Homo sapiens: one gene and its partners. The protein of the gene in region 3 interacts with the protein of the main gene of each other region in a biochemical or structural test. Each region holds a gene or a part of one and is shown on either strand. Other genes may lie near its edges.

Region 1 (3,500 bases), on a different chromosome or scaffold from region 3:
AAATTCAGTGGGTGCCCTGGGCAACCTGACACTGGTGCTGGCCATTATTGTCTTCATCTTTGCCGTGGTGGGGATGCAACTCTTTGGAAAAAGCTACAAAGAGTGTGTCTGCAAGATCAACCAGGACTGTGAACTCCCTCGCTGGCATATGCATGACTTTTTCCATTCCTTCCTCATTGTCTTTCGAGTGTTGTGCGGGGAGTGGATTGAGACCATGTGGGACTGCATGGAAGTGGCAGGCCAGGCCATGTGCCTCATTGTCTTTATGATGGTCATGGTGATTGGCAACTTGGTGGTTAGTACTAATTTGTAGATATTTTTGTTCTACACCCTGAATATTCTACCCCTGGCCCAGAAGCCCAAGTCCTTCTACTGCTTAGTCCTTCTACTACCCGTCATGTTTGTTGATTTTTATTCTTTCTTGGCCCAGAAACCCTAAGGTACAAATGAAGGAGAGGAGAGAGATACTTACAGAGTGCCTACTTAGTCATGACCCCCACAACTTGTCAACCCTTTTCCTAGAGTTAGGAAAGCAAACTCAGCAAAATTAAGTGACTTTCCCAAATAAATATAGGGCTTGTATTTGAACCTAGACTTTAAAGTCTGTGCCCGTTCGCCTACAGAAGCCTTCCTTTTTCTTAACGACAATTTCTCATCTGTGGTGCTATTGACATCTTGGGCTGGATAATTCTTTGTTGTGGGCTGTCGTGTGCATTGTAGGGTTTAGCAGCGTCCCTCCTGGCCTCTACCCACTAGATGCCAGTAGCATCCTGAGAGCTGTGACAACCAAAAATGTCTGCAGACATTGCCAGATGTCCCTGGGGGGCAAAATTGCCCTCCATTGAGAGCCACTGCTCTAAACCATCTTAGAGTTTTATTTAATTTATATAAATGACAAATCACTTTATTGCTTTACTTTGATCTGTCCACCTGCTCTCTTCTACCTCTGTCTTTAGAAGAGTCACCAACAGATCTTAACACCTTGCTTCTTAAAGTGTGATCTGAGGACTAGCAGCAACAAGATCACTGGAGAGTGTGTTAGAAATGCAGAATTCTAGGCCCCAAATCAGAACTACTGAATCAGAATCTGCATTTTTAACAAGATCCTTGTGTGACTCAAAAGTACACTAAAGTTTGAGAAAGGACTATCTTACAGATCAGGCCCCTAATCCCACCTGCAAGTGTAGGGCAAAGAGGACTGGAAGAAGACAAGCTTATCTGTCCCTTAACATGCTCATCCACATTAGTTCTCTTCCTTTTTCTGCCACAGAGAAGCATGACAGTAAAAGGCTCCTACTCACCAGCCTCTGAACCAGCTACAACTATTCTGTTCTTCCATTTGACCTACAAAAAAAATAGCTACTGTAATGTTTAATTCTTCCTATTCTCCATTCCCAGCCACCTTTCCCTCAGTCCTAATCCCTCTAGTCTTCTCACTACTTCAGTGACTATAACAATGGCTTCCCGGTATGTAGCATGATCAACATTTTCAAGCCCTGACTTTGCCACCCTTTCTTCACTCTCCTGTTCTTATTTGTCTCAAAGACATCTCCCCATGGCTGTCTCCAGATACCTGAGCACTTGATAAATATCAGCTGTTACCACTACCCCCTGATGACACTTTTCAGGTTCCCCTTTGCTCAGTAGTCCTTCTGCCCATCTAGTTTCTAGGAACCTATAACTTTGGAGTATTTTCTGTCTCTTTTCTCTCCACTCCCAGCAAATATCTGATGTGTCTTAAATGCATCTTTCTTCATAGTATTTCTGTGGATATCTTTCTTCATAGTATCTAAGATCTGCCCCTTCCTTTGCATTTCTATAATTCATTCAGTACTTTATAAAAATGTGGTCTCAAGACCACCTGCATCATAATTACACAAGTTTCACTCACAAAAAAAGGCCAAGTCCCAGGCTGTATACCAAATCTACTGAATCCAAATATCTTTAGAGTAGGCTAAGGAAATATTTTTAACAAACATCCACACCCCTCACTCCCTGAGATTCTAATGCATGCTAAGATTTGGGATTTCTGTAGCCTAATCCAGACCCTTATCAATTCATGCATGTAACAGCCTCCTAACTTCTGCCCTTCCCCTCTGTATGTAGTTAGTCTGAATGACTCTTTCAAATCTCTGTCATCATCTGTGACTCCTTTACTCAAGAACCAGTAGTGGATCTAATTAAATAAAATTCAGATCCCTCAGCCTGGCCTTCAAAGCCCTCTCCAACTCACCCGCATTTTACCAACCATATTCCTTTTTAACTCTACAAATGGTGCAGATAATCCGAACACTTATAGTTCATTTATTGTTTCCACCCTCCCACTCTGCACATGACTGTTATCTCCTCCTAAAATGTATGCCTTACTCTTCTTCCCAAGTATGACAAAGTAAGGACCAAGTGTAAATCAAGAAGTGAGCACCTCTCCCACTCCTAAAAAGTAAGTCTTAATAAAAATAAATTAATTAACCTTAATGTTCAATGTAGTAAAATAGGAGATTAAAACAAAAATAAATAAAGCTTGTATCTGATGGCTTGACATTTGGCTATGCAAAAAAATATAAAAGTCACCATCACTGTCTTGCTAAAGCGATTTTATTTTTATAAATGTTAGGAAAACAAAATTTGTTCTTAAAATATGATGACATGAAGTGTATTTCAGTTCTACCTTCTTGGTTTTTTGTATGAAAGGATGGCACTTCAAGCCTCATTTTTTTTTCTGACGTGGGTCCTCTCAAACTCTGCTCATGAATATGTGGCATCTGTACACTTTGTGACCCTCCCCAGTAATGTATATTCACCTTTTTATTTTGGGGAAATGTCCTTCCAAAATGGATACAGCCTTTGTTTTTTCTGATTATAAGAGAAGTAATATATTTTCGGGTACATATATATGTATGTAAAACTATAAAAGACCCAAGAAAAGAGGTGCTAAACTCCTTGTATTACAACCAAAACCAAACACATTCCCACCTGGTAACATGAGCATTAAAATACTACGTGGGCCAAACACAACACAACAGAGCCTCTTTGAGTCTGTCACGTGAAGTCCATTGGCTTCCAGTTTGCAACCCTGAGTTCGATGGATAACTTTTCTGCATTTGTTCCTTTTTTCCAATGCTACTGGCATAGGTGCTGAACCTGTTTCTGGCCTTGCTCCTGAGCTCCTTCAGTGCAGACAACCTGGCTGCCACAGATGACGATGGGGAAATGAACAACCTCCAGATCTCAGTGATCCGTATCAAGAAGGGTGTGGCCTGGACCAAACTAAAGGTGCACGCCTTCATGCAGGCCCACTTTAAGCAGCGTGAGGCTGATGAGGTGAAGCCTCTGGATGAGTTGTATGAAAAGAAGGCCAACTGTATCGCCAATCACACCGGTGCAGACATCCACCGGAATGGTGACTTCCAGAAGAATGGCAATGGCACAACCAGCGGCATTGGCAGCAGCGTGGAGAAGTACATCATTGATGAGGACCACATGTCCTTCATCAACAACCC
Region 2 (3,500 bases), on a different chromosome or scaffold from region 3:
TATTTGTCAGTGTGCTTGGGTGCCTCTCTGACTTTATTCAAGGTATTGACCATTCAGTTCTTAGTTTGTAGAAGAAATGGCAACGTTGGAAACAATAACCTATTTTAATTCTTTAATTATATTATAGTTGTACCTCAGTCCATTTTTCCCTCTTTTGTTTTATCTTAGGTCAACAGGACATACTGCTGTGGCACCTACCGAGCAGGTCCTATGCGGCAGATAAGTCTCGTTGGAGCAGTAGATGAAGAAGTTGGTGATTATTTCCCAGAGTTCCTTGATATGTTAGAAGAATCACCATTTCTGAAAGTGAGTGTTAATTAAGATTATTAAAGTTTTGATCTTTACTTAAGTGGGCACTTTATATGTTGAAGAGTATTTAGCTAATATTGCCTATTGAAATTAAATTTATCCAGTGTTTTGCACAGAAATGTTTAGATAGAATAATATTAGTACAAAGTACTTAAATTCAATTATTCTTTTTAATATAAATTACTATGTAAATAGCATTTATTTCTTTATATACAGTTGTAAAAAAGCCTTCTTAGAACTTTTATTTGGGTGGGAGGATTAACTTATAAATCATTGAAACAATTTTTTAATGTGACTAATCCGTCTGATTTCTAGATGACTTTGCCCTGGGGTACACTTTCTAGCCTCCGACTCCAGTGTAGGTCCCAGAGTGATGATGGGCCTATAATGTGGGTAAGGCCAGGAGAACAGATGATCCCTACAGCAGATATGCCAAAGTCACCCTTCAAAAGACGACGGTAAATATTTCTTTTTCTCAAATAAGCAAAACTACTTTTTTTTAGTTGGTTGCTTATAAAAATGAGCACAGTTTGAAAACCATTTGTCTTGGGCTCCCTTAAGTAAATGTTTTAGTTGTCGGTTCCTCTTTTCAGTCCAATCATCACAGTTATCACAGTGAGGCATTTTTCTAAAACACAAATTTAATTTTTACTTATTTTTTAAAAACCTGTGCCCTAACTGCCTGCAGGATAAAAGATCAAACCCCTTAGTGTGGTTTACATTAATAATCAGGTCAACTGTACCTCTTCTAGATGTATCTGTGTTTAGTCTTCTCCGGCCATACCGAATTCACTTTCCAAACCATAGTCTATCATAACTCTTTGCTTTTGCACTATTTTTTTTTTTTTTTTTTTTTTGAGATAGGGTCTCACTCTGTTGCCCAGAGCTAGAGTGCAGTGGTACAATCATAGCTCACTGTATTCTTGAACTTCTGGTCTCAGGAGAGCCTCCCAAGTAACTGTGGCTATAGGTGTGTACCACCATGCCCATCTGATTAAAAAAATTGTTTTGTGTATTTTATTTTTGTAGAGATGGGGTCTCACCATATTGCCCAGGTTGGCTTTGAACTCCTGGCCTCAAATGATCCTCCTGCCTCAGCCTCCCAAAGTGCTGGGGTTACCGTCCCACAGCAAACTTAATACATTTTCAAAACTTAGCTTGAGCTGGGCACAGTGGCATATGCCTTTAGTCCTAGCTACCTGGTAGGCTGAAGTAGGAGGATCAGTTGAGCCCAGGACTCCACGACAAGATCCTGACTCAAACCCAAACCAAAACCAAACAAAACTTAACTTGGACGTCACCTCCTTTGTGAAGTTTTTCTTTCCTTCCTTAGGTAATTAATTGTTCCCTACAATGTTCTGTTCATTAAAGTTTTGTTTACATGTTTTTATTTTCTACTAACATTTGAGGTGTGCTTTGGGAAGACAGGGACTATTTTATTCATCTTTGTCCTCATGACATATACTAGGTAACCAGTATTTGCTACATGAAACCAATAATGTTCTATAGGACCGAGCCTCAGTAATTCATATTGTGCTAACATGTTTTGTGTTTCAGACTTTGAAGACAAATGTAGATTAACTCACTCTCTAGTACTTTGAAAAATCTAATTTAATGAGACTGAAAATGATCTATACCTGCTTAGACTACGAAAATAGCAATTCAAAATAAGTGCCCAGAAGTGAGTTTTAATGGACTAATCTAAACCTTAACTTAAGGCTCATAGGAGAATGATACTTGAGCTAAGTATGGAATAATCTTAGGTACTTGAAATGTATGAAAATACTTTGAAAACATTATGTACGATGCAGGGTGGTGGCATGGTAAAAACCCAGGAGTCATTTGAAAGTTCTGCACATTGCTAGATTATAGCAGTTTTTGTTGCAGGATGATGACGAATCTTGAAATCTTATTAAATTGTTAAATACTATATACATTTTTTGTTCTGTAATCTTTCCTCAAAAAATGACCATCATTTGTTTCCTGATTTTTATAAACTTAAGAAAAAAGTAATAGGAAAGAGTAAAAAGAGGGCAGGTGCAGTGGCTCACACCTGTAATCCCAGAACTTTGGGAGGCTGAGGCAGGCAGATTGCTTGAGTCCAGGAGTTCAAGACCAGCCTGGGCAACATGACAAAACCCTGTCTCTAGTAAAAATACAAAAATTAGTGTGGTGGCACGCTCCTGTAATCCTAGTTACTGAGGTGGTTGAGGCATGAGAATCGCTTGAACTCAGGAGGCCGAGGTCGCAGTGAGCTGAGATGGTGCTTCTGCACTCCAGCCTGGACGACAGAGTAAGACTCATCTCAAAAAGAAAAAAAAAAAGAAGAGTAGAAAGAAGGCAGGCTGGGCATGGTGGCTCACACCTGTAATCCCAGCACTTTGGGAGGCCAAGGCAGGCGGATCACCTGAGGTCAGGAGTTCGAGACCATCCTGGTCAACATGGTGAAACCCCATCTCTACTAAAAATACAAAAATTAGCTGGGCATGGTGGCAGCCGCCTGTTATCCCAGCTACTCGGGAGGCTGAGGCAGGAGAATTGCTTGAACCTGGGAGGCGAAGGTTGCAGTGAGCCGAGATTGTGCCACTCCACTCAAGCCTGGGGGACAAGAGCAAGACTTCATCTCCAAAAAAAAAAAAAAGGTAGCCACCATTTAGGCATATTAACCTTTCAAATTATATATAGCCATAAATAATCTTTTTACAAAATCCATTCTTTGTGTGATGTTTACTTTAAAACTTGGGAATTTTTACTGTATGGTTGTATCAAGATTTATTTAACCAATTCTTGGTTTTTGTTTTTGTTTTTTCTTTGAGACAGGGTCTTACTCTGTCACCTAGGCTGGAGTGCAGTGGCATGATCAGGGCTCACTGTAGCCCATCTCCCAGGCTCAAGTGATCCTCCCACCTCAGCCCCACCAAGTATCTGGGACTACAGGTGCCTGCCACCATGCCTGGCTAGTTGTTTTTTGTTGTTGTTGTTGTTGTTTTTGAGACAGAGTCTTGCTCTGTCACCCAGGCTGGAGTGCGGTGGTGCGATCTCGGCTCACTGCAAGCCCCTCCTCCCGGGTTCACACCATTCTCCTGCTTCAGCCTCCCAAGTAGCTGGGACTACAGCCTCCCGCTATGATGCCCGGCTAATTTTTTTTTTTATTTTTAGTAGAGATGGGGTTTCAACGTGTTAGCCAGGAT
Region 3 (3,184 bases):
GAGACTCTGTCTCAAAATTAATTAATTAATTAATTAAAGGCAGCCTCTGCAAAGGAAATTGACCTGGCACATCAGACAGGCATAGGCCCAAATCCTGGCTCATTTCCTTACCTGCTGTGGGACTATGGGCAAGTCAGTTACCCTCTGTGAGCCCAGTTTTCTCATCAGGAAAAAGAGGGGTCATGAGAACCTCTACCACAGTGGTCATTAATTGATGTGACCCTGGTGGGTTCAACCGTGGCTCAGGCACCACAGTGCTTGCTGTGTGATCTTGGGCTAGTTGCTAAAGTCCTGTGTGCTTTAATTTGTTCACATGTAAAATAGAGATAATCTACCTCATAGAGGTGTTAAACGATGATTCAACAAGCTTGGAACAAAGCTCGGCACCATTTTAAGTGCTGAAAAAATGATAGCGATTCAGCCACTGAATCTTTTTGCAAGACTGACCATGTATCAGATGCTATTCTAAGCCCTGGAGGTGCAAGGAGGGAGCGAGCTTTCACTTAGGCAGTAGGAAATGAACTTATGAACAATTTCAGATCATGACAAATGCTCTAGAAAACAGAGTAAGGCCTAAGGCCAGGTGCAGTGGCTCACACCTGTAATCCCAGCACTTTGGGAGGCCAAAGTGGGAGGATCACTTGAGCCCAGGAGTTTGAGACCACCCTAGGCAACATACACCCCATCTCTATTTTAAAAATCAAAAAATTAGCTGGGTATGGTGGTGTAAACCTCTGGTCCCAGCTGCTCGGGAGGCTGAGGTGGGAGGATCACTTGAGCCTGGGAGGTAGAGGCTGGAATGATCTGTGAGCTGTGATCACACCACTGCACTCCAGGCTGAGCGACAGAATAAGACCCTGTCTCAAAAAAAAAAAAAAAAAAAAAAAAAGTAAGGCCTAGAGAGTGACAGAGGGGCCTACTGTAAATGAGTGGTTGGGGAAGAAGGTGGCAGTGGAAGCCTCTGATCAGAGACCCAGGGCCTGGCCCTGCAGAGAGAACAGGGGTGAATGGCCTGAGGCTGCACTGGCTGTGGCCAGTTCCAGGATGAGTTCAGTGGCCAGTGGGACTAGAGTCCCTGAACAGGGCCTGGTTCCCTGTTGGACACAGGGCCTGGCCCTTGGAAGGACTCAGGCCAACCGGGAATAGGGCTGCTAGGGACCTGTCTGTCGGGCCACCACCTGAGACCCTGGGGGCACAAGCGGGCTGGCTGTTTCCTTAACTGAGGCCTGTCAGTCCTTCCTGGAGACGGCCCAGCCAGCACTTCGGGCGCTCGACGGGCTGCAGCGCGAGGCCATGGAGGAGCTGGGCAAGGCGCTGGCCTTCTTTGGGGAGGATTCCAAGGCCACCACCTCTGAGGCTTTCTTCGGCATCTTTGCAGAGTTCATGAGCAAATTCGAGGTGAGCCTCGCTGGAGCCCTGAGGGGCCCTTTTGGAGAGGTGGGGGCCAGAGGCCAAATGAAGGGATCCTCCATGAAGCCAGGGCTGGGAAAGGGGCTCCAGTGAGCGACATGTCCCCCTAACCCCCTGATGGGCTGTCTAGTGTGGGAAGAGACAGGGAAGGCGTCACAGGTTCCTGGGACCACTGACCACCCTACCTCTGTGTTCCCCCTCCCCAGCGAGCGCTGAGTGACCTGCAGGCCGGGGAGGGCCTGCGCAGCTCCGGGATGGTTTCACCCCTGGCCTGGTGACAGTGGCCACACCGCGTCCTCTGCGGCCTGAGCAGGGAGATGGAGGCCGAGAGGGCAGCCCAGACACTGCCGAGGTCCGGGGCCACTGTGCCCCGGGCTCTGAGCACACCGCCAGCCTCTCCTGCAGCTACCTCAGCCGCCGAGCTGTGGTCGGGCCCTCCTCTGCCAGCCCTTGTTCCTACCCCCAGGCCCAGAGCCAGATGCTGTAGGAGCAGGTGCTGAGTGTGCCTGCACATGGAGGACCGTGCTCTGTCGGCTTCTTGGGCCCACTTCCCACTTCGCTCCCAGGCTGTCAGGGGGGCCTGGAGGGTGGATTACAAAGTGGCCACATTCCTGGGACATGTGGACCTTTTTTCTGATCCTGCTCCTAGTGGGTCCCTGTGAGGGGGCCGACACCCTTGAGCACGACCCTGCAGGCAGGCGCGAGACGCGAGAGGGCAGAAAGCCGGATGTAGAGGGGCCCTGGGGATGTGCACGCCCAGCCTGGGCCTTGGAAGCTGGCTTCAGGGACACAGGAAGAGAGAAGCCTGGGAGAGACGCAGGGAAGGAAGGACTGGAGAAGGAAGACCCCCTATGTCAGACTGCGGAATTGAGGTTTCATGCAGTGGACAAACCCAAACCTGTGTAGAGGTGGCCCAATTGGAAGTGGGGAGCCTGGGAGTGGAATAGGTGTGGTCAAGGTAGAGCAGACAGAATGGGGAGGTGTTGAGGCAGGAGGTGAGCAGGATCTGGTGGCCAACTGCCAGACTTCTCACCTGGACGGATGGTGATGTTCCCTGGAGCAAGTCATGAGACCGGGGCAGGTGTGGGGGCAGATGACACAATCTGGGATGTGTTTGGGACCCAAATGGTCATTTTACATGTGCCTAGGCATATAGCAGGAGTTACCTGGATACCAGGAGCAGGAGCAGGTGGCGTGGTGGGCAGGGAGGGAGGGTGTGTGAACTGTTTCACCTTTTTTAAAATTCTCTGATTGACAGATCCTTGGATCAGACAGCTTCCCTCGTTGCACTTTTTTTTTTTTTTTTTTTTGGAAAAGTCTGAAATGGGCTTTAATCCTGTCTCATGGATTCTTTTTCTCCCACTGCAATCAAATGGCTTACATTGCACCTGGGCAGTACTGGGAACCTGTTCAGTTCTTCCCAGTCTCCCCTAGGCCCCTCTTGGAAGCCACCTTTGTTTTTTTGTTCCTTGCACACAAGCACCATACAAAAACATCAAAACCAAAATATATACTGCAAGGGGGATGTGGCTAGTGGGGTACATTTCACCCTAGCAGCTCAAGCAGAATTGTTTCCAAAAGTTCCCAGTGCCTGTGTCTCTGGGAAACATGTCAGGAGGTCAGTTAAAACCTCTGCAGGCAGGGCGTGGGGGCTCACGCCTGTAATTCCAACACTTCGGGAGGCTGAGGCAGGTGGATCACCTGAGGCCAGAAGTTCAAGACCAGCCTGGCCAACATAGTGAAGCCATATCTCTACTAAAAATACACAAAATTA
Region 4 (3,500 bases), on a different chromosome or scaffold from region 3:
AGGAGAAATATCGTTTCAGAGTTTCCATTTTAACCAGCCAACCTGTCACATGGTTGATGTTCTTCATTTGAAGGTTTAGCTAATAAGTTCAGGCACAGAATGAAGATGGCAGAGCATTAGAAGGGGCTAAGTTTAGCATCAAAAATCTGTGGGAAGGATGCTGACTTGAGTGGCTAAAGACATTCTGCTTAATTAAAATCGATTCTTTTAACCCTTTTTTTGCTCTCATCTCCTACTGCATGTGAACGTTCTACAGCTAATTTATCTCAAGCAATAGATTGACATGGTTGTCTCAGTGTTTGCAAAGGAAATTTCAAGGCATTATTTGTAGTAACAAAAGCAAAACAAACGCCCCTAAATCCCACAGCAACAGAACAGGTGAATCCAGCATAGCATATCCACTCCATGCTCCTCCTCTCCCCTCTTCCATCCCCTCCCCTTTCTTCTCCTTCCTTTTCCTTTCTTGTTTTTTTACAGTGAAGCAAATACATGGCAAGATTTGGTCCAAAATAAAGGAAATATTGAAAAAAGGTTGTTTTGTTTTCAGGTGATGAGGTCTGTAAGTGGATTCCCCCTTAATTTCAATAACGTTGTTTGGGCAACCAAAACAAAACAACAGAACAATGTTAACAATGTTAGGTTGTATCTGTTAGTCCTTCAGAACTGGTCATCAAACTTCAAGTTTATTGTTTGGGTTTTTGTTGGTGGTGGTGGTGGTTTCTGTTGTGGCTATTGCTTTGCATATTTTGATGTTGCCTAACAATTACACAGGAGCTTCCCGTGCTCGATCCTGAGGACCTCTGAGCTCCTCTGGTCCAGAGGTACAATCCACACATGGATCCAAAATAAGGGCTGAGAACAGGGAGAGGTGGAGCTGGCCCAGGAAACTACTGCCTCTCCTCTGTGCCCACCTGCCATTGAACCTTCAACTTCCTTTCATTTAAAACCAGACTGGCCCCTCAGTCTCCCAAGGAGCACTCAGTAGGCTTTCATGGTCTTGTAATTTATTTTAGTTCTAACAATTGTTTCATTTGCTAAGAGCATACTAAACTATTCAGGCAGTACATATATTTAAAGTATCCTTTAAAAACTCCTCCTACTGAGGCTTTTGTCCACTCCAGAGCATCCCCCATTTTCCTGACAAGGGGAGTGTTATGGGGCCTTTCCCATGTGTTGGGAGGCAACACATCTGTACCTCTTTGATATTTATGGAGACAAGAGTCAGAGAAATGGGGGCTTAAATAAAGGGAGAGAAGAAAACGGGGGAGATTTTTAAATAACCATTAAGCCCCAGCAGAGGTGTAAAGGAATCCTCTGTGCAGTGCAGTCCTCTCTGGTTCTTTGCTGCCCGCGTCTGCTTTAGTCTATAATTTGGATTTTAAATGCATCCCTTGGGCAGGAACCCAGTGGCTGGTCTTGAGGGTCCAAATCCTCCTCTAAAACCTCAGAAACTAACATTTTAGCCTCCCTGTGCTACAGTCCTGGTGGCCACTGTGTATTCACCAAAATCTAGAAAACCTAAATTGGTTTTCTGCTGAGAACTAGGCAGCATCCATGTGACTTCTGAATGTTCCAGGATGCTGGTGATGATGCCCCACATTCCAGATCACTGCCAATTGCAGCACCATTTCGTGGAGTGGGATAGGGGTGAGTGGGAGTTAGAAGGAAGGATCCCTGCCTGTGATGTGGGTTCCTTAAGGCTGCAGGGTGGTTGAACATGCCAGAGGGCAAAGTACCCCCTACCCGTCAACGCTCAGAGACAGACAGTCAGCAAACAGTGTCAGCCCCGGTGGGGTGTGGCTGCCTCCTGTTAACGCAGGCTTAATTAAGTGACCCATTACAGTGAGAAGTGCAAGAAAATCTAGGCATAGTCACTTGAATAACAGAATTCCAAGCAAGTGGAAATAAGCCTATTTAAAATGGCTATCTATCTCGGGGAATATTAGTTCTGTTGCTGAGTATACTGTGTGAAACTGTTAATGCCCAGTTAATGTGGCATTCACTAATCATTAATACACGAGTTTTCTGTGAAGGAGGAGAAGAAAGGAAAGATTTCTTCCCTGAAGCTACCTTCGGTCAGTGTTAGCCATCAACTCAGCACCTGGCACATTTTTAGACAAAACTACCCTTTAGCTGTTAGTCAAAAAAATCCTAGCCCTGTCTCCACACCCCCATCTTTCCAATCCCTTCTTTAAAAATCGGCCGGGCGCGGTGGCTCACGCCTGTAATCCCAGCACTTTGGGAGGCCGAGGCGGGCGGATCACGAGGTCAGGAGATCGAGACCATCCTGGCTAACACGGTGAAACCCCGTCTCTACTAAAAATACAAAAATTAGCCGGGCATGGTGGCGCGCGCCTGTAGTCCCAGCTACACGGGAGGCTGAGGCAGGAGAATGGCGTGAACCCGGGAGGCGGAGCTTGCAGTGAGTCGAGATCGCGCCACTGCACTCCAGCCTGGGCGACAGAGCGAAACTCCGTCTCAAAAAAAAAAAAAAAAAAAAAAAAAAATCAAGTCACTCCTTTGCTTCAAACCTTCTAGTGGCGTTTGTCACCCTTAGCTTCAAATCCAAGCTCTCCACCATGACCAACAAAACCCTGACGCTTTGGCCACTGCCCACTTCCCCCACCTCATGTGATACTATCCTGTCCCTCACTCCCTCCAGCCCCACTGGCCGCTTCTCTCAGGTTTGGCACTGGCGGTTTCCCCAGTCTGCTACGCTCTTCCTACCACCGGCTGCTTCTCACGAATTAGCTGCGAAATCGCCACCTCAGCAAGATCTTCCCTGAGTCCCTGTTTCACCCTGTTTCTTTTCTTCACAGCTTTTATCACTACCACAAATCATTGTTTATGTCTCTCCACAATAAAAATGAACAAGAATTTTGCCTGCCTTATTCATTGTGTGTCTTTAGCACTCACAGCAGTGCCTCGTACATAGTAAGTCCTCAAAAGATATCTGTGGACTAAAATGAATGAGTGTTGTGTATGTAAAAATGACACCATCACTAAAGCATGCTTTGAATTGACATCCAGCGGGGCATGGGTTGTGCTGATCTATCCCCCTCTGTCTTTGAGGGCACCTCATAAGCAATGGTCCATGTTTGCCAAGAGTCCAGGCCAGGGTTTGGGGCACAGTATGAAAGAAGGAACAGAAGGTGGGGTGTGGTGGCTCTTGCCTGTAATCCCAGCACTTTGGGAGGCTGAGGCAGGCAGATCACCTGAGGTCAGGAGTTCGAGACCAGCCTGGCCAACATGGTGAAACCCTACTAAAAATACAAAAATTAGCCAGGTGTGGTGGCACATGCCTGTAGTCCCAGCTACTCAGGAGGCTGAGGCAGGAGAATCACTTGAACCCAGGAGACAGAGGTTGCAGTGGGGCAAGATCGCACCACTACACTCCAGCCTGGGTGACAGAGTGAGACTCCATCTCAAAAAAACAAAAAAGAAAAAAGAAAGTACAGCAAAAAAACAGACTGGGCTCATATAGAGATTAAACCCAAGAC
Region 5 (3,437 bases), on a different chromosome or scaffold from region 3:
AAATCTTGGTCGTGATGACAGAGTTATTGGTGATCATGGAAAAGAAGCAAGGTAATTCTAATCATTTGAGTGTTCTTACGGTATTTTTATAAAAACAGCAGAGTGTAAATGGAGACTTTAAAGTTTGTTTTCTCTTTGGAGACTGTTCACATGAATAAGAGCAGCAATAATAGCTTGGCTTTGTATTATAAACAAAGTCAGAAACAGAGCTGGGAAGAGCCAGGAGAGCATTTATTTTCTAGAACTCATTCTCTAAGAAATGTCTTTTCAGTAATTTTCAAAGGTAACATAATGACAGGATTGTTTTTAAGACTATAGTGAAAAATACTGTCAAAGTAGGCCAGGCATGGTGGCTCACACCTGTCTTCCTAGCACTTTGGGAGGCCAAGGCGGGTGGATCACCTGAGGACAGGAGTTCAAGACCAGCCTGGTAAACATGATGAAACCCCACTTCTACTAAAAATACAAAAAAATTAGCTGATCATGGTGCTGCATGCCTGTAGTTCCAGCTACTCGGGAGGCTGAGAATGGCTGAACCCAGGAGGTGGAGGTTGCAGTGAGCCCAGATCGCGCCACCGCACTCCAGCCTGGGAGACAGTGCGAGACTCTGTTTCCACAAAAAAACAGAGTAAAACTGAGATAGTGAAATACTAAGAGAAGGTATTTAGAGGGTTTTGTTCAGCTTTTAATGTTTGCTTTCCTCCCAGTAAGGGCATAAGCCCCACCTGCAAGCCTTCTCCAGTGTTATAGAAACTGGCTTTGTCTCTATAGACATTTCTGTATGTACAGATCCATGCTGATTTGAAGGTAGTCCTTACACTGGATATTCCTCTGCCACGTTTTTTGAACACAATTTAGTTACATATTGCAGATTACCTAAAACCTTCAAAGAAACCAAGGCACTTTCATGTATGTATTCTTGCTTTTCAGGTTTATTTTTACCTATATCATATTTCTGAAGGTAGTGAACAAGTACAGTATTTGAATAAAACTTTCTAAAACATTAAGTAAGGATAAAGGAAGATGTGACATTTAGTTATAAAGAGCAAAAATTCATTCAAGTAGGCTAATTGATTAAGTGGTAGTTTATTACAAGGGTGCAAGCATCCAAGAATAGGAAGTCCAAGTAAGCTTCATGAGAATTAAACATACTACACTTTCTCTCCCTCTCTCTCTCTCTCTCTTTGACTTCATTGTTTCTTGTCTCTACTTCAGTCTTTTCCTCTTTCCACTGACTTGTAGTTGCCTTTACACAGTTGTCTTTCTTAAGTTTCTGGTCCTAGCCCATGTAAAAGTTTAGCTACTATGTCATTATTCTGTCATAATTTTCAAGATTTCACTATAAACTGATAACTAATGCCATAATAAAGTCCGTAAACTGTTAAACTGTTTTCTCTTTGAAGGACATGAGAGAGGTAGAAATTCAGTCTGTTATTTCAGCTAGGTCATAGAGAAAGGAATTTGTCTAGTAAAAGCCCTTACTTATGAAAGTATTATATTATGCTCAAATAAAAATGCATATGAAGAATGTTTAAAGCAGCTAATACAGAATTGTGATATAACAAATATAGTGGCTAGATCTAAATAATTTATTACGTATCTTGACATACATATTAACAGTAGTGTGTTGATTTGATTCTCTAGTTAAATTTGCTTTTGCAACTCATTCATTTTTATGTAATATTCCAGATAACAAATGTCTTTGTCCTTTCCAATCTCTTAACCTAGAATAGGATGTAATAAAACGGAAACACTAGTGTAACTGTATTGCATTTTGAGATGTGGGATGGTGGGTGTTAAAGTATTTTAAACAGAAAAAGAACATAATTTTCTAGAAATTGGGGAAGGAAAAGGGCAGAAAGTTTTTTTTTAATCGAATATTTTGTTTCTAGGTCATCCCAGAATTTAGGGGAAAAAAATCTAATATTTTGTTCTGTTACAGTAATTTATCACCATTTAATTGGTTTAAGTATAATTAAACAATTTTGAGTAACAAAATTTTACCATAAGTGTTTTGCAGGTTCAGGACTGTGGAGCCCTTCTATATTGGTTCCATATCCCTAAAGTGTCATTTCTTTAGACCTGATAAAGATCAGACACAGATTGAATAGTTAGTTAAGATCATGCTCGTAGGCTAGGTGCGGTGGCTCACTCCTGTATTCCCAGCACTTTGGGAGGCCAAAGCAGGTGGGTCACTTGAGTTCAGGAGTCCGAGACCAGCCTGGGCAATGTGGCGAAATCTCATCTCTACCAACAAATACAAAGATTAGCTGGGTGCGGTAGTGCTCACCTAGGCAAAAAAAAAAAAAAAAAATCATGTTTGTTTTCAAGGCCTCCACAAAGATACCTTGTAAAACAATTTGAAATTATTTCTGGACACAATAAACCTAATTTATTTATTGAGATTTAGACTATTTTGTAGTATATGTATTAAAATTAGTCATGTTGTGAAACAATTTGGTTAAATTTTAGCTATAAAACTGTGTATAAATCAAAGCAGGTTGATTTTATTTTTACATAGTGGTTATATTATCTGTCTATTTTAGATTTCCTTTCCTGGATGAAAATGTTGTCTCCTTTCTAAATTCTCTGCCGATTTGGGAAAAAGCAAACTTGACTTTACCCCGAGGAATTGGTGAAAAATTACTTTTACGCCTTGCAGCTGTGGAACTTGGTCTTACAGCCTCTGCTCTTCTGCCCAAACGGGCCATGCAGTTTGGATCAAGAATTGCAAAAATGGAAAAAATTAATGAAAAGGCATCTGATAAATGTGGACGGCTCCAAATCATGTCCTTAGAAAATCTTTCTATTGAAAAGGAGACTAAATTGTAATGTGATTCACAATGTAACAATATAAAAATAAGTTTTTATATAATTATATAAAAGTAAGATACTCTGCTGCTTTACTATTGTATAACATAGTAGTTTTAAAGTTCATTTGGTTGAATTTTCATTTTTTCCTGTCACAGAGCTTCTAAAACCATGGAATTTCCTTAGTGATAGGGAATATCTTTTGTTGTTCATAATAAGCCCCTTTTGATCACACCTGAGTTTATGCTAATGCGTTGACTTAGGGTGAGGTCTCTAAATAGCCTTTAACACCTGCAGCTTGGGAGGCCAAGGCAGAGGGATCTCTTGAGTCCAGGAGTTTGAGAACAGCCTGGGCAACATGATGAAACCTCATCTCTACCAAAAAAAAAAAAAAAGTACAGAAAATTAGCTGGGCATGGAAGCATGTGCCTCCCTACTCAAGAGTCTGAGGTGGGAGGATCACTTGAGCCCAGGAAGTTGAAGCTGCAGTGAGGCTAGGATCATACCACTGCACTCCAGCCTGGGCGACAGTGAGACCCTGTCTCTAAAAATAAAAATAAAAACAAAAATAAAAATCAAGTGATTAGAAGAGTTGGAATTTCATCCCCACCCACCAACCTCTGGGA
Region 6 (3,500 bases), on a different chromosome or scaffold from region 3:
TCATAAATTATTTGGAGCTCTTCTGCATGGGAGATGGGTCTCTCCCTTCCCTTCATTTATTTATTTAATCATTTATTTTTCTATCAGTATGGGCTCATAAATATTTGTTTTATACTTTGGGTTATAATCCAATACTATTTTATTTATTAAAGACTTAGTGGATTTCTTATGCTGTTATTACATATTCATCTTTTTAATATTCTTCCCAGATGTAACTGTGCCATTCTTTTGGCCACTCCTATCATTTATAATATCATGCTTACTCCCTTCTTTCCTTTTTATCCTGCTGTTTATCAGCATTCTTTATATCTTTCTTAGTAGTCTGGAGGATTGCTTTTTTGTTGTTGTTCTTGTTATTTAAACGATGATGTCAGTATCCCTGTTGATATATGGATATTTTTGTGTGTGTTTAGTTGAATTACATTTTTCTTTCCCACTCCATTAGGAAAGGAATTTCTTGATGTTTGCTCACCACTATATGTCCAGTGCTGAGCAAAGTTCCTGGTTAATAGTAGGTATAAATATATGCCTGTTGATTCTATGGTGCCTTAGTCCATTCAGGCTGCTGTAACAAAATACCATAAACGGAGTAGCTTATAAACAACGTTTATTTCTCACAGCTCTGGAGGCTGAGAAGTTCACAATCAAGATACCAGCAAATTCAGTGTCAGGCAAGGGCCCACTTCCTGGTTCATAGATGGAGCCTTCTCAGGGTGACCTCCCATGGCGGAAGAAGCAAGGCAGCTCTGAGGTCTCTTTGTAAGCGCACTGTTGTCATGACCAGATCACGGTCCAAAGCCTTCAACTCCTAATACCATCACATTGGTGATTAGATTTCAACATATGAATGTGGGGGGACATAAACCACAGCAGATGGAATGGGGATGAGGTAGGGTAGGTAAAAGAAGTGTATAGATTGAACTGATTGCAATATAAATCATGAAGCTCTAACTTCATGTTAAGTAGGTGGAGTGTTAGATTTCTCTGAGGCATCATTTAAGCTGATATGTCAAAAAATAATAGGAATGAGTATTCCGTGTTTGGTGGGGTGTTGTCATGCCTTTTGGGGTCTCTCAGAGCCAAGGAGCTGATCATGAATCAGTTCCTGATTCCACCTAACCAGTAGCAGCTGGTCCTCAGATCTGGACTGGAACCTGATCCAGGCGCTTAGCCTGAGTCTAATCTCTCATCAACTGATAAAGATTGTGGTAGGGGAGAGAGGTCTGAATCTTTTGTAAAATCACAAGGTTCTGCCTTTTTGCCAGAACTGACCCAAAACAGCACTCCAGGGAACCGGTACTAGGAAAATTCTGCCCTCTGTATCTATTGTTAAGAAGCAACTGCCATAATCAATTTGCTGGAGAGAAGTGGTTCCGTGCTGGCACAGTCTCAATTATCTGATGAACAGAAACGCTAAAATGGGCTTGTAGGTGGATTTAACAACCATTTCAAGACTATGAAAGAAATTATATTAGAAAGAATGAAGTCAAAAACAAAAACTTCAGCCTGAGCACAGTGAGTTCCCTATGACTGAAAACACTCATTTATCCTCCCACATGAGCAGTTTAATGAGAGGAGCCCACAGGAGCTTACGGATGTTCACCACCCATGGTTTCCATTGCATTGGTTTCCTCCTGTGGGCCTTCCTCATAGAGAAGATGTATTGGAATATAGAGGTAAGAGCTGCTAGCTTTATTGAAGTCAGACCACCAGGAAGCTATAAAGGCCATTCTTAAAATAATATTTTTTCATCCCATAGCAATATAGTAGTAACACTGCTGAGTCAATACTCCAGTATACCCCTCTTGCTAGACTGATGTTTTGAGGAAGATGGTGGTGAAGATGGAAAAGGGGAATCAGAACCTGGGTCAGGTGCCTCCTTTGGCAAAAGCAGCAAAATAAAACTTAAAACCAGGGATTGTTTTCTTGGACGGTGTTACTGTTAACAAGGCTAGAACTCAGAAAAAATAACCCAACTGTATTACTTTTCTATTTCTGTGAAACACATGACCAAAAACAAAACAATACAAATTGATTGTCTTAAACTTCTAGAGGTCAGAAGTCTGAAACAGGTCTCACTGGCCTAAAATCAAGGTATCAGCATGAAGCATTCCTTCTGGAGGTTCTAGGGCAGAATCTGTTTCCATGGCTTTTCCAGCTTCTGGAGGCGCCCCACTCACGGCCCTGTCCTGCCAGGCTGCCACCTGTCCCCACTCACGGCCCTGCGACACCAGGCTGCCACCTCTCTTGTTCTCTCTCTTCTGCTTCCTTCTTCCACTCATCAGGACCCTTGTCATTACCTTGGGCTTACCTGAGTAACTCTGGATAATTTATCCATTTCAAAGTCAGCTGGTTAGCAACTTTCATCCATCTACAACTGCAATTCCTATTTACCATGTAAAGTAAGATATTTATAGGTTCTGGGGAGTAGGATGTGGACATCTTTGTGGGGCTATTATTCTGTTTCTCACAGCAGCCAAAATGAGGTTATGCACAGCGACAGTGTTTTCAGTGCTGTAGCCAAGAATATTCTAGATTCCATGAAGCCACCATAACTTTTACCTTTAAAGTATAACTCATAGTGATATAAAGCTGGTTGGTTTTTTGGTTTTGTTTGTTTGTTTGTTTGTTTGTTTTATTTGAGATGGAATCTTGCTCTGTCACCCAAGCTGGAATGCAGTGGCGCAATCTCAGCTCACCACAACCTCCACCTCCTGGTTTCAAGCAATTCTCCTGCCTCAGCCTCCTGAGTAGCTGGGATTATAGGCTCCCACCACCACGCCCACCTAACTTTTGTATTTTTAGTAGAGACTGGGTTTCGTCATGTTGGCCAGGCTGGTCTTGATCTCCTGACCTCAGATGATCTGCCTGCCTTGGCTTCCCAAAGTGCTGGGATTACAGGCGTGAGCCACCGCGCCTGGCCTAAAGCTATATTTTTTATTAGTTGTATTTCAAATTGCATAGTATGGTGGTAAAGAACATGCACTCCAATGCAGCACTCTGTGCTCTTACCAGCTGTGTGATCTTATACAGGTTAACACCTGTATTATGTCAGTTTACTCATCAGTGTTGGTGATAATCCCAATAAGAGTGCTTACCTCATAGAGGTTTAGGGAGAATTACATGTATAACACACTTAGTAAACTGAAGAAGCCATTGAAGCCTTTTGACATTGAATATCAGTTTGATTTGCATTTTAAAGAGAATGCATTGGATGGAGTATGGTGAATGGAAGGATTGGGGTGGGGGGAGTCAAACTGGGGAGACCAGTTAGAAGTTATTGGAGTAGTCCAGGCAATTGCTTGTGTAAGTACTTATTTTATATAGTTTATTGATAAATATACTCACATAATTACACATACACATATAACCACTGACAATTGCTTTTTACAGTTGTCACCTAATGATGCGATGTGTTCTGAGAAATGTGTCGTTAGGTGATTTTGTTATTGTGTGATCATAGAGTGTACTTACAGAAACCTAGATGGTAGAGCCTGCTG
Region 7 (4,052 bases), on a different chromosome or scaffold from region 3:
AGGTGAGCGCGCCCACCTGCGCCTCTCCGCGCGGCCCGCCCTCCCCGGCGCCGGGCTCCTCTCCGCGCCCCTGTCGGCGCGGAACCCTGGCCTCGTCCGCGGCCCAGCTCCCTGGAGCCTCGCATCAGCGGGGGCGCCCCCGCGAGCTGCGCTCTCCCCGGCCGGAGCGCTCCTCCTCCAGCCCCCAGCCCGCAGGGTACTTTGCCCTCGGAGCGAAGGAGGCTCCAGAACTGGTAGAGCCGGGCCATCGGGCTGGGCACCTCCCCGCGGCGCCCGCAGCGCGGAGTCCACTGACCGGCTCAAAGGTCTGGGAATCTCGGGGCGGCCGCGAGCCGGCCTCGGGGACTGGGGTGGGGGCGGTGCTGGGAACAGAGGCTAGGCCTGGGCCCAAGGGGAAGGCAGCCGGGGATGGAGCGGACAGACCGCTGGTGCTCTTGATAGATTCTCGCAGCACTTGCGTCCCCAGGGCAGCCCCAGGATGGGTGCTGGGCAGGGTGGTGCCCAGCCTGGCACCGCGGCTTCCTGCCTGGATTGGCTCCTGGCTCCAGAGCTAGAGGCTCAGGAAATCCCACAGGGGTCTGTCTGCAAGGGCACTTCCTTGCCCAGCGGAGGGGCTGTGGATGGGAGGCCTGTCACCCCGGCTGTCTGTCGGGCAGCATCAGGAATCTGGGGGTGGGTGTGTCCAGCTTGACAGATGAACCCTGGCCTCCTTGCCCTGGCAGCCGGCCCCTGGGGGAGGTGGGGAGCCCGGTCTTGCCCGTGTGATCCACTTTGCCAAGAACGAGGTGGGCAGCTAGGAGGCCCATGTGAAGACTCGGCCTCACCCCACCAGTCCTTCACCTGGCCAGTGACTTACACAGTCTGTACTGGTGCCAGCCTGTTCCTTGACCCGTCACTCCTGCTTCCTGAGCCCTGCTCTCCCTAGGCCACTCACCAGCCCTCCCCCAGAGTGGAGAGGAAGTACCGTGTGCTGTGGGTTTTGGGGACAGGAAGCAAGCGCTAGTGGGACTGAGCCCTGATGGTGGAGGAGGGGAGACTGAGGGGGTGCTGGCATCCCCTCCACTTGCCAGCCCCTGCCCCCCATGCTCCAGCAAGCCCCCTGCCTGGCAGCCTGGGCAGCCCCCTCCTGGGAGTCGCTCCCTGGGCTGAAGACTAAGGAAGGGAGAACCCAGAAGCATGGCTTCCCAGGGTGGGGGGAAGTGAAACCGGGCTGAGGGAGGGAGTTAGCCACTTCCTCTACCCACCCCAAAGCCCCTGAGTAGCTGCTCCGGGAGCTGTGGTGCCCTCTCCTTCTCCCTTTGGCTCCTCTCCTGCTGCCTTACAGTGCCCCCAGAGCCGGCTAGGGGCATGGACTTCACCTCCTGGTCCTCTCTTCCTCAGGTATGGCGTTGACGGTGGATGTGGCCGGGCCAGCGCCCTGGGGCTTCCGTATCACAGGGGGCAGGGATTTCCACACGCCCATCATGGTGACTAAGGTAAGGATGGTGGCTCAAAGAGATGAGAAGGTCCTGCCAGAAGCGAGGTCGGCCCTGTTCACCCCACTCTGCACAGATGGCTTGCTTTTTCTGTTCTGGAGCTAGGGATCTGCTGCTGCCTGGCGTGCTGGCTGTAAGGGAGCCGTGGCCCTTTGCCACGGGGATGTGGTGGCCACTTCAGGAACAGACCTTGGGAGTGAAAGGGAGCTGGGACCAGGACAGGGCCGGCTCTTGCCTCCCCAGTTGCTATCCCCACACTTGCAGGCAGCCATTTGGGGTGATTACTAGAACAAGAGCCCCGGAGTTCTTGGCAGTCTCCTCTTGACCTGGGCCCAGGCTGGGAACATTCACAGGAGGGCTGTGCAGGCAGCCACCTGCAAGGTGCGATTTGCACGGGCAAGGCTCTCTATCCAAAAGTATTTCCAAGCACAGTTCCTGAAATTCTGCCACTGCACATTCTTTGGGAGGCCCATTAGAATGCCAGTGTGGGGTGGGGGCTGCCACCTGCGCTCCTGGAGGGGATGGCTGATCAGCTGGGTGTCATGAGCAGGCAGAGGGACATGCAGGAGGGTGCAGGCCGGCCTGGGTCAAGCCAGCCTCTGTGTTTCTTGGGTAGCAGAGTGGGAAGTCCCTTCTCCAGCTGGGCCACGGTCTGAGCATGCCAGCTCCTCATCCCTACAGGTGGCCGAGCGGGGCAAAGCCAAGGACGCTGACCTCCGGCCTGGAGACATAATCGTGGCCATCAACGGGGAAAGCGCGGAGGGCATGCTGCATGCCGAGGCCCAGAGCAAGATCCGCCAGAGCCCCTCGCCCCTGCGGCTGCAGCTGGACCGGTAGGGCCTCCCGCTCTGCAGAGCCTGTGGCATTCCCCCTCCTCCACCACCCCACGTATTGAGCAGCCCTTGCTCCTGCCCATGGGCTAGAGCTCAGCCCTAAAGCGGCCTTCTTGGGCCCTCTCCACACCTTGGTGAGAAGGTCCTGGGCTCTGCTTCCTGCAGCAGGGTGGGCTGAGGGGTGTTCCCATGCCTGGTTGGGTAAAGGTGGGCGCCAGGCTGGGCGTGCAGTCACAGGCTGGGCAGGGCGAGCTGGCACCAGCCACCTTGAAGCCCGGGTTTGACTGGTTCCCAAGAGTGTGCAGGGCACAGGGCGTGGGCATGAAGTGGGTTGAAGAGGGGAACCTTCTGGGAAAGGTATGCCCGAGGCTGCATCCCCAGGACTCCTGCTTCCAACAGGGCATGGCCTTTGTTTAGTTCCCAGCTGGAAGTGAGGACTTGGGGGGCTCATTCCTCATAGAGGCTGTCTGTTCCTCCCCATCACTGAAGGCAGATGCCCGATCCTGGGTTACTCCTAGGGTTTTGAGCCTATAAGCCAAGGTGGGGCCAGGGTGGGGCCTGGAGGCCAAGCTATAGGGGGAACAGGTGGCTCCCTGGGGTGGGGCATTGCAGTGAGTCACAGATCGGGAATGCCAGGAGATCCCCGAGCCAGGAGAGCCCTCTGCACGGGCCTAGAACCTGAGTCAGACACCTCTTGCATCCTGGCCACCCCCACATTGTCCTGCTCTCTTCAGCCCTACCAAGCCCCTCCTTCTCCAACTGCCCTGCCCTGTGGTGTGGCAGAAGCCGGCTCCCTTCATGTCATTCAGGTCCCTGGGTGTTTGCAGGAGCGGGACCCCAAGAAGGAGGGTAGAGAGCACCTCATGGCATCTGGGAATGGGGCAGAAAGCTACAGGAGGCTGAGGGTCTGGCAGCGGAAGGGCAGGAGCCTCGGACTGTCTCTTCCTCTGGGGTTCTCTGGAGGGACCAGGGCTCGGGGGAGGTAGGCCTGGGCTGTAAGTCAGGCCTCTGGTTCTGCACCAGGCAAGCCCAGACTCCAGTCTCTTAATTTTTTTTTTTTTTTTTTTTTTGAGACAGAGTCTCGCTCTGTTGCCAGGCTGGAGTGCAGTAGCGTGATCTCGGCTCACTGCCACCTCTGCCTCCCGGGTTCAAGAGAGTCTCCTGACTCAGCCTCCTGAGTACCTGGGACTACAGGCGCGTGCCACCACGCCCAGCTAATTTTTGTATTTTTAGTAGAGATGGGGTTTCACCACGTTGGCCAGGATGGTCTCGATCTCCTGACCTCGTGATCCACTTGCCTCAGCCTCCCAAAGTGCTGGGATTACAGGTATTACACCGCGCCCGGCCCAGTCTCCTTACTTTTGCTGACGTGATGCCCACCCCCCCCCCCGCCCCCATCTCCCGCCTCCTACCCTCCCAGGTGACCTCTCTGGTATTCAGAAGCCCTGGGGCAGGAAGCAGGGCTCCAGGCTGGAGCCAGAGACTGAGCTCTCCTCACCCTGATCCCATGGCTCTCCCAGGAAGCGGAGGGTCCTGTTGCCCTACATCTCTAGAGGCAGCCTCACGGCCAGGAATGTGTGGCAAGATGGGACGAGGCAGGCTGTCCCTCAGCCCAGACTTCAGTTACCTCCCATTCAGGGCTCCAGCTGGGTTCCACTTTGGAAGAGGGTACCCAGGGAGCTGGGAGGGCGTGCCCCTCTCGCTGGTGGGGAGCTGGGCCTACTTGTCTGGAAGGAGGCAGGCG

Evidence for each region.
Region 1: the proteins of GRID2IP (region 3) and SCN8A interact in a test that uses a peptide from one of them, tested with the Homo sapiens proteins (one large-scale study listed by IntAct).
Region 2: the proteins of GRID2IP (region 3) and RSBN1 interact in a test that uses a peptide from one of them, tested with the Homo sapiens proteins (one large-scale study listed by IntAct).
Region 4: the proteins of GRID2IP (region 3) and TMEM178A interact in a test that uses a peptide from one of them, tested with the Homo sapiens proteins (one large-scale study listed by IntAct).
Region 5: the proteins of GRID2IP (region 3) and ASNSD1 interact in a test that uses a peptide from one of them, tested with the Homo sapiens proteins (one large-scale study listed by IntAct).
Region 6: the proteins of GRID2IP (region 3) and JAM2 interact in a test that uses a peptide from one of them, tested with the Homo sapiens proteins (one large-scale study listed by IntAct).
Region 7: the proteins of GRID2IP (region 3) and PDLIM2 interact in a test that uses a peptide from one of them, tested with the Homo sapiens proteins (one large-scale study listed by IntAct).

What each region holds. Positions count from the first base shown.
Region 1 is NC_000012.12:51,765,733-51,769,232, forward strand, and holds part of SCN8A (sodium channel protein type 8 subunit alpha), read left to right. Parts: coding exon 1-295; intron 296-3,132; coding exon 3,133-3,500. UniProt on the Homo sapiens protein: Pore-forming subunit of a voltage-gated sodium channel complex assuming opened or closed conformations in response to the voltage difference across membranes and through which sodium ions selectively pass along their electrochemical gradient.
Region 2 is NC_000001.11:113,774,477-113,777,976, reverse strand, and holds part of RSBN1 (lysine-specific demethylase 9), read left to right. Parts: exon of another isoform or gene 1-157; intron 158-168; coding exon 169-306; intron 307-624; coding exon 625-767; intron 768-3,500. UniProt on the Homo sapiens protein: Histone demethylase that specifically demethylates dimethylated 'Lys-20' of histone H4 (H4K20me2), thereby modulating chromosome architecture.
Region 3 is NC_000007.14:6,496,278-6,499,461, reverse strand, and holds the end of GRID2IP (delphilin), read left to right. Parts: intron 1-1,233; coding exon 1,234-1,398; intron 1,399-1,616; coding exon 1,617-1,688; 3' UTR 1,689-2,684; downstream 2,685-3,184.
Region 4 is NC_000002.12:39,707,417-39,710,916, reverse strand, and holds part of TMEM178A (transmembrane protein 178A isoform 1 precursor), read right to left. Parts: intron 1-3,500. UniProt on the Homo sapiens protein: Acts as a negative regulator of osteoclast differentiation in basal and inflammatory conditions by regulating TNFSF11-induced Ca (2+) fluxes, thereby controlling the induction of NFATC1.
Region 5 is NC_000002.12:189,667,895-189,671,331, forward strand, and holds the end of ASNSD1 (asparagine synthetase domain-containing protein 1), read left to right. Parts: coding exon 1-51; intron 52-2,546; coding exon 2,547-2,832; 3' UTR 2,833-2,937; downstream 2,938-3,437.
Region 6 is NC_000021.9:25,642,258-25,645,757, forward strand, and holds part of JAM2 (junctional adhesion molecule B isoform 1 precursor), read left to right. Parts: intron 1-590; exon of another isoform or gene 591-3,500. UniProt on the Homo sapiens protein: Junctional adhesion protein that mediates heterotypic cell-cell interactions with its cognate receptor JAM3 to regulate different cellular processes. Plays a role in homing and mobilization of hematopoietic stem and progenitor cells within the bone marrow.
Region 7 is NC_000008.11:22,579,223-22,583,274, forward strand, and holds the start of PDLIM2 (PDZ and LIM domain protein 2), read left to right. Parts: upstream 1-1,252; 5' UTR 1,253-1,380; coding exon of another isoform or gene 1,381-1,382; coding exon 1,383-1,475; intron 1,476-2,156; coding exon 2,157-2,308; intron 2,309-4,052. UniProt on the Homo sapiens protein: Probable adapter protein located at the actin cytoskeleton that promotes cell attachment. Necessary for the migratory capacity of epithelial cells. Overexpression enhances cell adhesion to collagen and fibronectin and suppresses anchorage independent growth.